3 linked regions of the Homo sapiens genome follow. The protein of the gene in region 2 purifies or fractionates together with the protein of the main gene of each other region. This does not show direct contact. Each region holds a gene or a part of one and is shown on either strand. Other genes may lie near its edges.

The links.
Region 1: the proteins of SHISA2 (region 2) and RAP1B purify together in Homo sapiens (affinity purification with mass spectrometry; one large-scale study listed by BioGRID and IntAct). This does not show direct contact.
Region 3: the proteins of SHISA2 (region 2) and PTGES2 purify together in Homo sapiens (affinity purification with mass spectrometry; 3 studies listed by BioGRID and IntAct, with this or other methods). This does not show direct contact.

What each region holds. Positions count from the first base shown.
Region 1 is NC_000012.12:68,655,833-68,659,559, forward strand, and holds part of RAP1B (ras-related protein Rap-1b isoform 1 precursor), read left to right. Parts: intron 1-473; coding exon 474-617; intron 618-1,268; coding exon 1,269-1,355; 3' UTR 1,356-1,385; intron 1,386-3,447; 3' UTR 3,448-3,727. UniProt on the Homo sapiens protein: GTP-binding protein that possesses intrinsic GTPase activity. Contributes to the polarizing activity of KRIT1 and CDH5 in the establishment and maintenance of correct endothelial cell polarity and vascular lumen.
Region 2 is NC_000013.11:26,049,011-26,053,282, forward strand, and holds the start of SHISA2 (protein shisa-2 homolog precursor), read right to left. Parts: upstream 3,007-4,272; 5' UTR 1,966-3,006; coding exon 1,632-1,965; intron 1-1,631. UniProt on the Homo sapiens protein: Plays an essential role in the maturation of presomitic mesoderm cells by individual attenuation of both FGF and WNT signaling.
Region 3 is NC_000009.12:128,122,462-128,124,729, reverse strand, and holds part of PTGES2 (prostaglandin E synthase 2), read left to right. Parts: intron 1-179; coding exon 180-238; intron 239-878; coding exon 879-1,028; intron 1,029-1,595; coding exon 1,596-1,796; intron 1,797-2,083; coding exon of another isoform or gene 2,084-2,129; exon of another isoform or gene 2,130-2,244; intron 2,245-2,250; coding exon 2,251-2,268. UniProt on the Homo sapiens protein: Isomerase that catalyzes the conversion of PGH2 into the more stable prostaglandin E2 (PGE2) (in vitro). The biological function and the GSH-dependent property of PTGES2 is still under debate.

The sequences.
Region 1 (3,727 bases), on a different chromosome or scaffold from region 2:
GCCTTGATTGACTTTTTTAATACAAGACTATGAGAAACTAAAAATTCTATTTTGGGAGCCTTCCGTCCATTATGATAAAATTTTAAGGTTTTTTCCCCCCATCTCTCATAACAGGATCATAGCTTGTTTTCTCAAAAGTTTATGTAAAAGTGTCTTATTTATGTCTACATTGACTAGGTTGTGTTCATTTTACTTAACATATGAGAGTTTTCTTTCTCTCTTTTCTTCCCTTTGGAGTTATCGTTTGCATCTCCATGAAAAGAGAAGGCAGTGGAGATAATTGACATCAAAGTTAATACTTATGTTTATGTTACAGATTAAATTGTTAAGGCTGTAAATTTTATTATACATTATTTAATATTTTTTGTGGCATATGAAAAGTAATTCTTAGATTTGACTCTTAGAATTCTTTTGATTTGAATTCATATAGCATATTTACTTATTTATTTTTACTCTCACAAATGTATTTTTAGGTTCCAATGATTCTTGTTGGTAATAAGTGTGACTTGGAAGATGAAAGAGTTGTAGGGAAGGAACAAGGTCAAAATCTAGCAAGACAATGGAACAACTGTGCATTCTTAGAATCTTCTGCAAAATCAAAAATAAATGTTAATGAGGTATGGTCAAATATACTTAAAATGGGTCTTCATTTGAAGTACAACATTGAAGATGAATGGAAAATGTCTTAACCCCAAGTTAATATGTACTCAGGGTAATATGTTGATGTTACAGGCAAAAAAAAAAAACCCTCATGTTAAATGTATCTATGTAGTAAATAAACAATACTATTTCAGTCTCTATTAAATACTTGTACATTGATATTTACCATGAAAAAGGAAGACTGGACAGAAAATACATGGATAGGGAAGACAGATTAAGACTTCAGGTATATGAAGGATGTTATATGAAAAATAGAGTAAAATTCCGAAAAGTATGCATGGTTCTTGAAAGGCTCCAAGTCATGTTGTAGAGCAAAAACTTACAGTTTTTAAAAGGATTTTTTCTTTGTGTGATGGTAAATGTTCTAATTGAACTAAGTTAAGATCTCTGCAGCTCCTTCAACTAAGTATTTTAAGGAGCACAATATTAACACTCCCCAAAAATTTGAGCTTGGCAGTTATAACACCTGATTTTATTCTCATTCCTTAGCTGAACAATTCTGGGCATTAATTTATATCCATGGAAATTTCTGTTTTTTCAATTTACTTTTTTCATTGGGGGGGATAGGTGTTCCTCCTGTAAATTAAAACAAATTATTGTATTTGCAGATCTTTTATGACCTAGTGCGGCAAATTAACAGAAAAACTCCAGTGCCTGGGAAGGCTCGCAAAAAGTCATCATGTCAGCTGCTTTAATATACTAAATGCATTGTAGCTCTGAGCCAGGTATGTTCACTTATCTTTCCTCTAACTTTTAATCACTCAACCTTATTAAGGGCACTCTGTCATGAAAGCAAGTATAGACTTCTTTTTGTTGGTTCTGAAAAATAAATGGTTTATTTTTATAAGATATCCATGAGTTAGTATGCTATCTTATTAATTATTTACTTATCATCATGAGTAAAGTATTTCACATAAGTATTCTTTTTTTGAGATGGAGTTTCACTCTGTCACCCAGGCTGGAGTGCAGTGGCGCAATATCAGCTCCCTGCAACCTCCGCCTCCCAGGTTCAAGCAATGCTTCTGCCTCAGCCTCCCGAGTAGCTGGGATTACAGGCACGTGCCACCACGCCCGGCTAGTTTTTTTGTATTTTTAGTAGAGATGGTGTTTCACCATTGTTGGCCAGGATGGTCTCAATCTCTTGACCTCGTGATCTGCCCACCTCGGCCTCCCAAAGTGCTGAGATTACAGGCGTGAGCCACCACTCCCAGCCAACCCCGTCCCTAATTTAAAACACACACACACACACACACACACACACACACACACACACACACACACGTGCGCGCGTGCGCGTGAGCCACCGCTCCCAGCCAACCGTCCCTAATTTAAAACACACACACACACACACACCCCTGACATGTTCATCATGTGCCAGTCACACACACACACACACCCCTGACATGTTCATCATGTGCCACTTTTTTTTTTTTCCTTCAACTTTTAAGTTCCAGGATACATGTGCAGGATGTGCAGGTTTGTTACATAGGTAAAGGTGTACCATGGGGTTTGCTGCACAGATCTTGCATCGGTACCTGGCACATAGTTAACACTCAACTATTAGCTGCTGCTGTTTGCCAATGATAATGGTTTCCTCTTCAGCTGTCATTAAACTGTTTATTGTTAAACTGTTAATTTATTCTTAAGAACCTTTGACATTCCTGACTCTTATTTCTTCCTATGTTAATTGACTCAGTGCTGCCATAGCACTTTGATTCTGCATCTTTTCAGAGTTTTTATTCCTGCCTTCCATCTAGGGCTTTCTGTTTAGTGGTATATCCTCTCATTCTAATATCCTATAATTCCTGACCACATGCCCATTCTTAGCAGCACACATGTGCTTGAGCTCACACACTTCCATCTGTCCTTTTTAATTTGCAACAGTCTGCCAGGATTTAGAAAACTTGATTGCAAACCTCATTCAGACTCAGAATGAGGACCTAAAGTTCTAGGCATTTGTGAAAATTATTTCAACAGCCACATATGTATTAACAACTCTTCTGGAGCTTGTAACAAGTCTGATCACCAGAAAAATATAATAGGGAACATTTTTTTAGCCGAGGCATGTATGCAGAAAACTATTCAAAGTACATATTTAACAATTCTAAGTTTACTTTTTAAAATCTTTAATTACATGTGATTTTAGTGTAATACCACCTTTTTCTGACATCAGTCTTAATAGAATGTTTAAATATGGAATTAGAAATTATATAACGTGATTGTAAATCTGTAAAACACCATCATGAAATAAATTCTATTTGTCTGCTCTGAACGAGCTTTTTAGCCACTTTCATTGAAAGAGTGAGGAAGAACTTGATTATCTGATACTAGAAACCTTGGTTAGATGTGCATTCTATACTTATGATCTAATTCTAGGAGTACATTACGATTGTGTAAACACAGGATCACCCAGTTTGTTAATATTGCTATCTGACTTTTCAATCCTAATTCTAATAAGGTTGACTTGACTAACAATTTTAATGTGATTTTTTTCCTTTTTAATCCTTGGAAGGTAATGCACAAAAATTTGCACAAAGGTACTTTCCCTTTCTGTTCCTAAGATTTTCATTTAACTGACTTTCAAGAGGGCAGCAGAATAGACTTCATCTTTTTGGAATGAAAAGGTCTGCCGTGAATTGTGGTATGTTGCCACTAATGTAATGCCTAGAACAAGAGCCTAGATTATATTCATTTCTAACACTTTTAAGACTGTTTTCTTAACTGTTTGCTTTTGGGTCTTTACTTTTTCTAGCCCATGTTTTTAATTAATTTTTTTCCTTTTGACAGGTCTGAAGAACTGTTGCCCAATTCAACAGTGCCAGCATTCCAACTTTGTTAAACCTACCAACATCTTAAATGGACTTTCCTGTGGTGGTACCCTTTAAGAGGCGGATGAAAGCTACTATATCAGTTTGCACATTCTAATCACTTTCCAGTATCACAAGAGAGATTTTTACTTATATAATAGTCCTAGAGTTTGCAGCTGGTAAAACCAGAGGCTACATCCAGTATTACTGCTAAGAGACATTCTTCATCCACCAATGTTGTACATGTATGAAAATGGTGT
Region 2 (4,272 bases):
TGGCGTGTTATAAATATTTCATTCTCTAAATTAAGACACCAGCCCTAAATATGTTATCAAAAAATAAATTAATAGTAGTAAAGCAGGAAAAAAAATGTACCCCAATCATAGCAGAAACTAGCTGAAACCAGCCTCAGTCCACATAATGAGTTTTGGGGAGAAATAAGTGTTCTCTTTCCAGGATTTTTAATTGGAAATGTAAATAACTACACAGGGATAAGGAATGTAACGCTACTATAAGCCCCCCGGCAGGCTTAATTAGGCATGTTGCCCTTCACTGCAGAAGAAAAGTGAAAGAAATACAATTTTTAGGAAAAAAACGTTTAAAAGTAGCATGAAGAAGGCATCCATGCACAACACAGGGCGTCATGAGAAGTCTCGTCCTGAGAAGTCCCGACTAATCCAAAGCCATCCCAACTTTTTGGAGACCATTAATGAGCCCAATCTAGCAGACATCTCACTGTAGCAGTTCGGGGTCTGGCTCCCTTCTCTGGGCTTTCTTCCATGGCCACACAGTCTGCGAGACTGAGCTTGCGTTTTAAGACTGCGCTGGTTCTGGAATTACGCTCTCTTCAGATTCAAGACAGCAGAACAATAGGAGTAGCATGCTAATAAAATGCTTGACTGCGAAAGGGAACGGCACTGAAAAGAGCTGTCTCTCACGAGGTCCTGGGAGGCAGCTCTATAAACACAAACTACGCTGTGCCAAAGCTCAAGCAGCCCGAACCCAGGCTCAGGATGCTAGCGAAAAGCCTCCCAGGTAAACACAACGGGCCCACAAAGAGGAGGAGCCGCCCCCTCGGGGACACGTTTGCCATTTTACCTCTACACCTCCCCTCCCCCGAAATAAATAACACACACACACACACACACACACACACACACACACACGGAGTGACTGGTGTAGACACCCCAGGGAGGCATTCCGGAAGGTTTCTGAAGAGTGAAGTGCAACCTACCAAATTCTTTCACGGGTTTACTTTCCAACTCTGGCTTTGGCAATTTGAAAGAAAAAAAAAATCAAAGCCACAAAGAGCAAGGCTGGGCACTGCTCCGATGTTACACCTACTAAGTCTGACGTGGTAAGGAAAACAGTCCAGAAGCCCCACAGGCGGGCCGCTGCAGGGGAGAGGGGCCGCCGCGTGGAGAAGATGGGAATCCGCGGCGTCTGGCACGGGGCAGCAGCCCCGGGAAAGCCCTGAGGAGCTGCCTTCCTTTCGGGGAGCCTTCAGGGGAGCACCGCTGCCAGGCCCTCACGGGTGGGGGCGCACCCTCGCCGTCTCCTTGGGTACCCCTAAGACATGAAGCCCTATGGAGACAGGAGACGCCAGAGGGGCCCGGAGGACCCTGGTCAGAAGGAATATGGGGGCTGTCTGTGGCCCACACTGCCTTAGGAGTGTGATTTTGTTCGGAAAATTAACTCTAAGCCACCCTTTGGCTGACAGATGGAGAAACTGAGGCCCGTGAGGGTGAATTAGGGACCCACACCGACCAAATAATAAGCCAGAAGGCAGACTCCGCCTCCTGGTCCTAGGCCCTTTCCTGAATTTCCCCCCTTCAAACTCCCAGGTCCCTGACGTCCAGGCAACGCCAACCGTCCTCCCTTTCGCGCTGGGCGCAGGCCGCCCTACCTGCCGAGCCGTCGGGGCCGTCTTTGTCCGCCCGGCCAGGCTCGCCAGCGCCCTGCTGGCGGTCATTGTCGCAGCCGCCCTGGTCCAGGCGCGCCTCGGCGCTGGAGCAGCAGTAGCGCAACGCGCAGCTGCCGCAGCAGATGGTGGCGTCGCCGCCGTCGAAGCGCTCGGGACACTGGAAGCCGATGCGCCAGACGCCCTGCGCGTCCAGCCAGCCGTGGCAGTACTCGCCGCTGGCCCTCGCCCCCGCCGCCAGCAGCGCAGCCAGCAGCAGCTGCAGGAGCGAAGCGGCGTTCCAGGATGAGGAGACGGACGAGCGGCGAGCGCCCCACATGGCACCACCCTGGGCGCGGACAGCGCGTCTCCAGAGAGCGCAGGACGGTCTCCGAGAAGTCGTGGCCCCGGCGACCCCCGGGCCTCGTCACTGACTGTCCCGCGGCGCTTTCCGCGCGGGCCACTCCCCTCTGCCGCGACGCCCAGGAGGCGACGACGCCGGGCCCTAGGTCCAGGAGCTCCTAAGCCATCCCCGTCCTCAGCCGGTGGCCCGGTCCCCTTAGGGACTGCCTTATGAGTTGCACTCGCTGATGGAAATCTCGGGATGCAGTCAGAAGGCCCCCGGGGCTGTCGTCCGGAAGCCTCTGGAGGTTTCACTGGCAACCGGACCCTCCCTGAGCATCCCCGAAGGGATGCTCACTCGAGCCGAATGACCGCTGGGCGCGCCGCCGCGGACCTGGAGCCAGGGCTCTGCGCAGGGTTTAAGCCTCAGGGTCCCGCGCGCGAATCAGGGCCCGTCTCCCCTCCTTTATTCCCTCCTCGGGCGGGTAGAAGGGGCGAAGGCGGGCAGTGCACGCAAGGCTCTGGGCAGCAAGTGACGCAGCCGGCCGCGCTCAGCCTCCTCTGCCCCGAACTTGGTCCGCATGGCTCCGGCCGGGCCGCCCGGGCAGCCCACGGGGGTGCAGCCCCGACGCTCCACTCGGCGGGGCCGACGGCCAATCTTCCCAGCACGTCGCCGAGGGAGCGCTCCTGACCCCGGGAACGTCCAGGACGCAGGCGAGGGTCCTGCGCGCCCCCAGCCGCAGTCCCGGGAGCCTGCCCAGCTGGCGGCGGCCGCGGCTGCTGCTGGGCGCGGATCCAGGCGGGCGGCTCGCCCCGGTTCCCCTTCTCCGCCTCCCCGGCTGCAGCGCGGTCCCACAGGAGCCCGGCAGCCTCCGGCCGGCTCTCCCTCTCCCGGTCGCTGCCTCGCCCTCGGGAGGTGTGCGCACCGATGGAAGCCTCCCACGGAAGTTTCTTTCCTCCGGGCTACGGGAGAAGCCGAGCGCAGCAGCCGCCCACAGCCTCGCCTCGCCCCGCCCGGCGCCAGACCAGCTCCGACTCCGCTCGCTGCCGCGCTGAGCCGCGCTCTTATAGAGGCCGGCGGCTCCCCGGCGCGCATGCGCGCTGCGCGGCTCCCCCCCACCCCCGACCTCAGGGACGCCCGCGGGCGCCGGGCAGCCCCTCACTTTCCTACCCCGGGCAAGGAGAAAGGTGTGGCCAAGGGCGGGGTCTGCCTGCTGGAATAGGCGCGGGAGGAAACCCAACCTAAGCAATCCAGGCCTCGCTAACACAAATAACAATAATAACGGAAGAAACTCAACTTGCTTTGTGAAGATCTTTGGCATTCAACATTCGGTTCGATTCTGCAAACTTCTCAAGGGATTATGATTACTTTCCACTCTGCAGATCATAAAATCGCCACTCAGATGAACTCTCTCGGCTTCCAGCAGCTGATGTCCTGGCCACGGTTGGTCCCAGGCCCTGTGCAGGAAGAGCACCGATGTTTGTGGCAGGGTTCACACGCCTAGGGCTGTGTTTGGTGGACTGGAGGCCTCCACCACAAGGTGGAACGGAGAGAGTTCAGCAAAGATGTCACACATTCGGCCACGGTGTGGATGATCTGTGTCCCTTTTTCTTTCTATATTTGGGTGTGGTGATTTATCGGATTCCAGCAGGAAAGTGCCTCCGTCCAACATGTGGCCTTAGTGGTTTAGACAGCTGCAGTCAGGAAGAAAACAAGGTTCAGACAGACCAGAAATTCAGCTTTGATGAAGGAGAAATTAATAGCTTCTCTCTTGCAGAAGCTGGAACAACAGGTGCTGATGTTATTAAAGCAGCAGTGCTTATTTTTAAAGGAACGAATGCCCCTTCCCACACCGTCTGGGAGTCAGCAGACCTGAATTCTAGACCCAGCCCTACTAGCAGGGAATCACTGCGTTTTTCTGGTCTCAGTTTCTTCATCTATAAAGTGGAGCATAGGATGTGACGATCACTAAGGTCCCTTTCAAGTCCATGACTTCAGAACACAGGCAGTTTTATTCACAGCAAAGACACTCAGGTTCAAGCAGCCATTGGATGCTTGTGTATGCCTGGTTAATGTGAAGATTCAGACATTGTTGATTATTCTTCCACTTGCCCCAACAATGTCAAATCCAAGAAAAAAAACCCTACCCTATGTCCCTGCTCCCCAACACACACCTTATTCTTTTCACTAAACCTCTCTCCAAGCATTGCACTTTGTTTTCTTGCAGTTTTTTGGTTGTGTATCGTTTTAAGCTACACAAAATTATATACTTTAAATGCACTATTCACCAAATGTCTTAAGCTA
Region 3 (2,268 bases), on a different chromosome or scaffold from region 2:
CATTGGCCACAACCACGTCTCCCTACTTAGGATGGGTGCCCTGAGGGCAGGGCGGGGAGGACTCCGGGCATGTCCCCAGGAATGGATAAACAATGCCCAGAGTGTCTTGTTAAAGAGCCCCTGGTGACTCCCAGCGGCTGGGTTGCAACCTCTGATTAAACCACCCTTTTCTCTTCCAGCAACAACTAAATGACTCCTCTGTCATCATCAGCGCCCTCAAGACCTACCTGGTGTCGGGGTAAGGAGCCCCTCGGAGACCAGGTGGCCATTGCTTTTGGTGGCTTCCTCCAGGGAGGCCTCCCCTGAGTTCCCTCCTGGGAGCACGTGGAGCTGCTGCTTAGATTTCCAGAGTACAGAGTGGCTCGCACCTGTAATCCCAGCACTTTGGGAGGCCGAGGCAGGCAGATCACCTGAGGTCAGGAGTTCCAGACCAGCCTGGCCAACATGGCGAAGCTCCATCTCTACTAAAAATACAAAAATTAGCCAGGCATAGTGGCGAGTGCCTGTAGTCCCAGCTACTCAGGAGGCTGAGGCAGGAGAATCGCTTGAACCCGGGAGGCAGAGGGTTGCGGTGAGCCAAGATCGTGCCACTGCACTCCAGCCTGGGTGACAGAGCGAGACTCCGTCTCAAAAAAAAAAAAAAATGATTTTCCAGAGTAGCCCGTGGCCGTCCTCCTCCAAGCCCCCTACTTTGTCCTCCCCACACCTCCCTCTCTTGGGGAGGTAGCCCTGGCATCTACTCCAAATCCCTCTTACTGCAAGAGTCCGGAGAGCCTTTGTTGGTCCTGGCTCCACTCTGAGGCTGGGGCAGCGGGGTTGGTCGGCCACAGGGGACGGAGGGGGAAGGAGTTGGGGTGATATTGTGGCTCTCTCCGAAGGCAGCCCCTGGAAGAGATCATCACCTACTACCCAGCCATGAAGGCTGTGAACGAGCAGGGCAAGGAGGTGACCGAGTTCGGCAATAAGTACTGGCTCATGCTCAACGAGAAGGAGGCCCAGCAAGTGTATGGTGGGAAGGAGGCCAGGACGTGAGTGGGGCTGGGGCTGGCGGGGGAAGGTGGTGACCGCAGGGGTCTTCTGTAGAGTAGGACCAAGCTGAGCAAGATGGCGTGAGCAGGGAGCAGCATGGGAGACCAGCGGGGCTGGGGCCGGGCCATGCCGGATTTCAGTAGAGACCTTCCTGCAGCCGGGCGTGGTGGCTCACTCCTGTAATCCCAGCCTGTTGGGAGGCCGAGGCAGGCAGATCACCTGAGGTCAGGAGTTCAAGACCAGCCTGGCCAACATGGCAAAACCCCATCTCTATAAAAATGCAAAAATTAGCTAGGTGTGGAGGCACACACCTATAATCCCAGCTACTAAGGAGGCTGAAGCAGGAGAATCGCTTGAACCCAGGAGGCGGAGGATGCAGTGAGCTGAGATGGTGCCATTGCACTCCAGCCTGGGTGACAGAGCGAGACTTTGTCTCAAAAAAAAAAAAAAGACCTTCCTGCTCAGGCTTCAGCTTCCCGCCCGTGCAGTGGGTATGTTCTAGAGAATGCAGCCTGCTCCCAACACAGCCCGGGTCCTGGCTTAGGAAGTCCCTCCCGTGCCCGCAGGGAGGAGATGAAGTGGCGGCAGTGGGCGGACGACTGGCTGGTGCACCTGATCTCCCCCAATGTGTACCGCACGCCCACCGAGGCTCTGGCGTCCTTTGACTACATTGTCCGCGAGGGCAAGTTCGGAGCCGTGGAGGGTGCCGTGGCCAAGTACATGGGTGCAGCGGCCATGTACCTCATCAGCAAGCGACTCAAGAGCAGGCAAGTGTGTGTGCACATCCGGGGCCTGCTGTCCCCGAGCCTCCGGTGCCACGAGCAGTGGTGATCCCATCACACCCCTCAGGAGACCAGCGGGAGGCCGAGGCCTAGGGCAGGTGGGAAACGCATTATGGATTATGGGTCCCTTGGCCAAGATGGGACTTGGACCCAGAGCTCCTGCTCACCTCCCCTGGGGACAGCAGGGCTGGCCTTGAAGCCGGAAGCCTGGGCCCTGACTGGCGCCTCCTCTGTGGCTTTCTCCCTGGCCTGGTCTCTTGCCTTTACCACAGCCTCCCCGTCTGGGACGGATGCTCCCTGAGGCGTCTGCAGATGTGATGCTCTCACCTGGGGTGCCGTCCTGGCTTCCACACCTCCCCCCTCTCCCCAGAGGAGACCCTCTTCCCTGCTGGGCTGGGAGTGGGGGCTCCCCTGAGGGGCTTTTCCCTTCCCCGCCCAGGCACCGCCTCCAGGACAA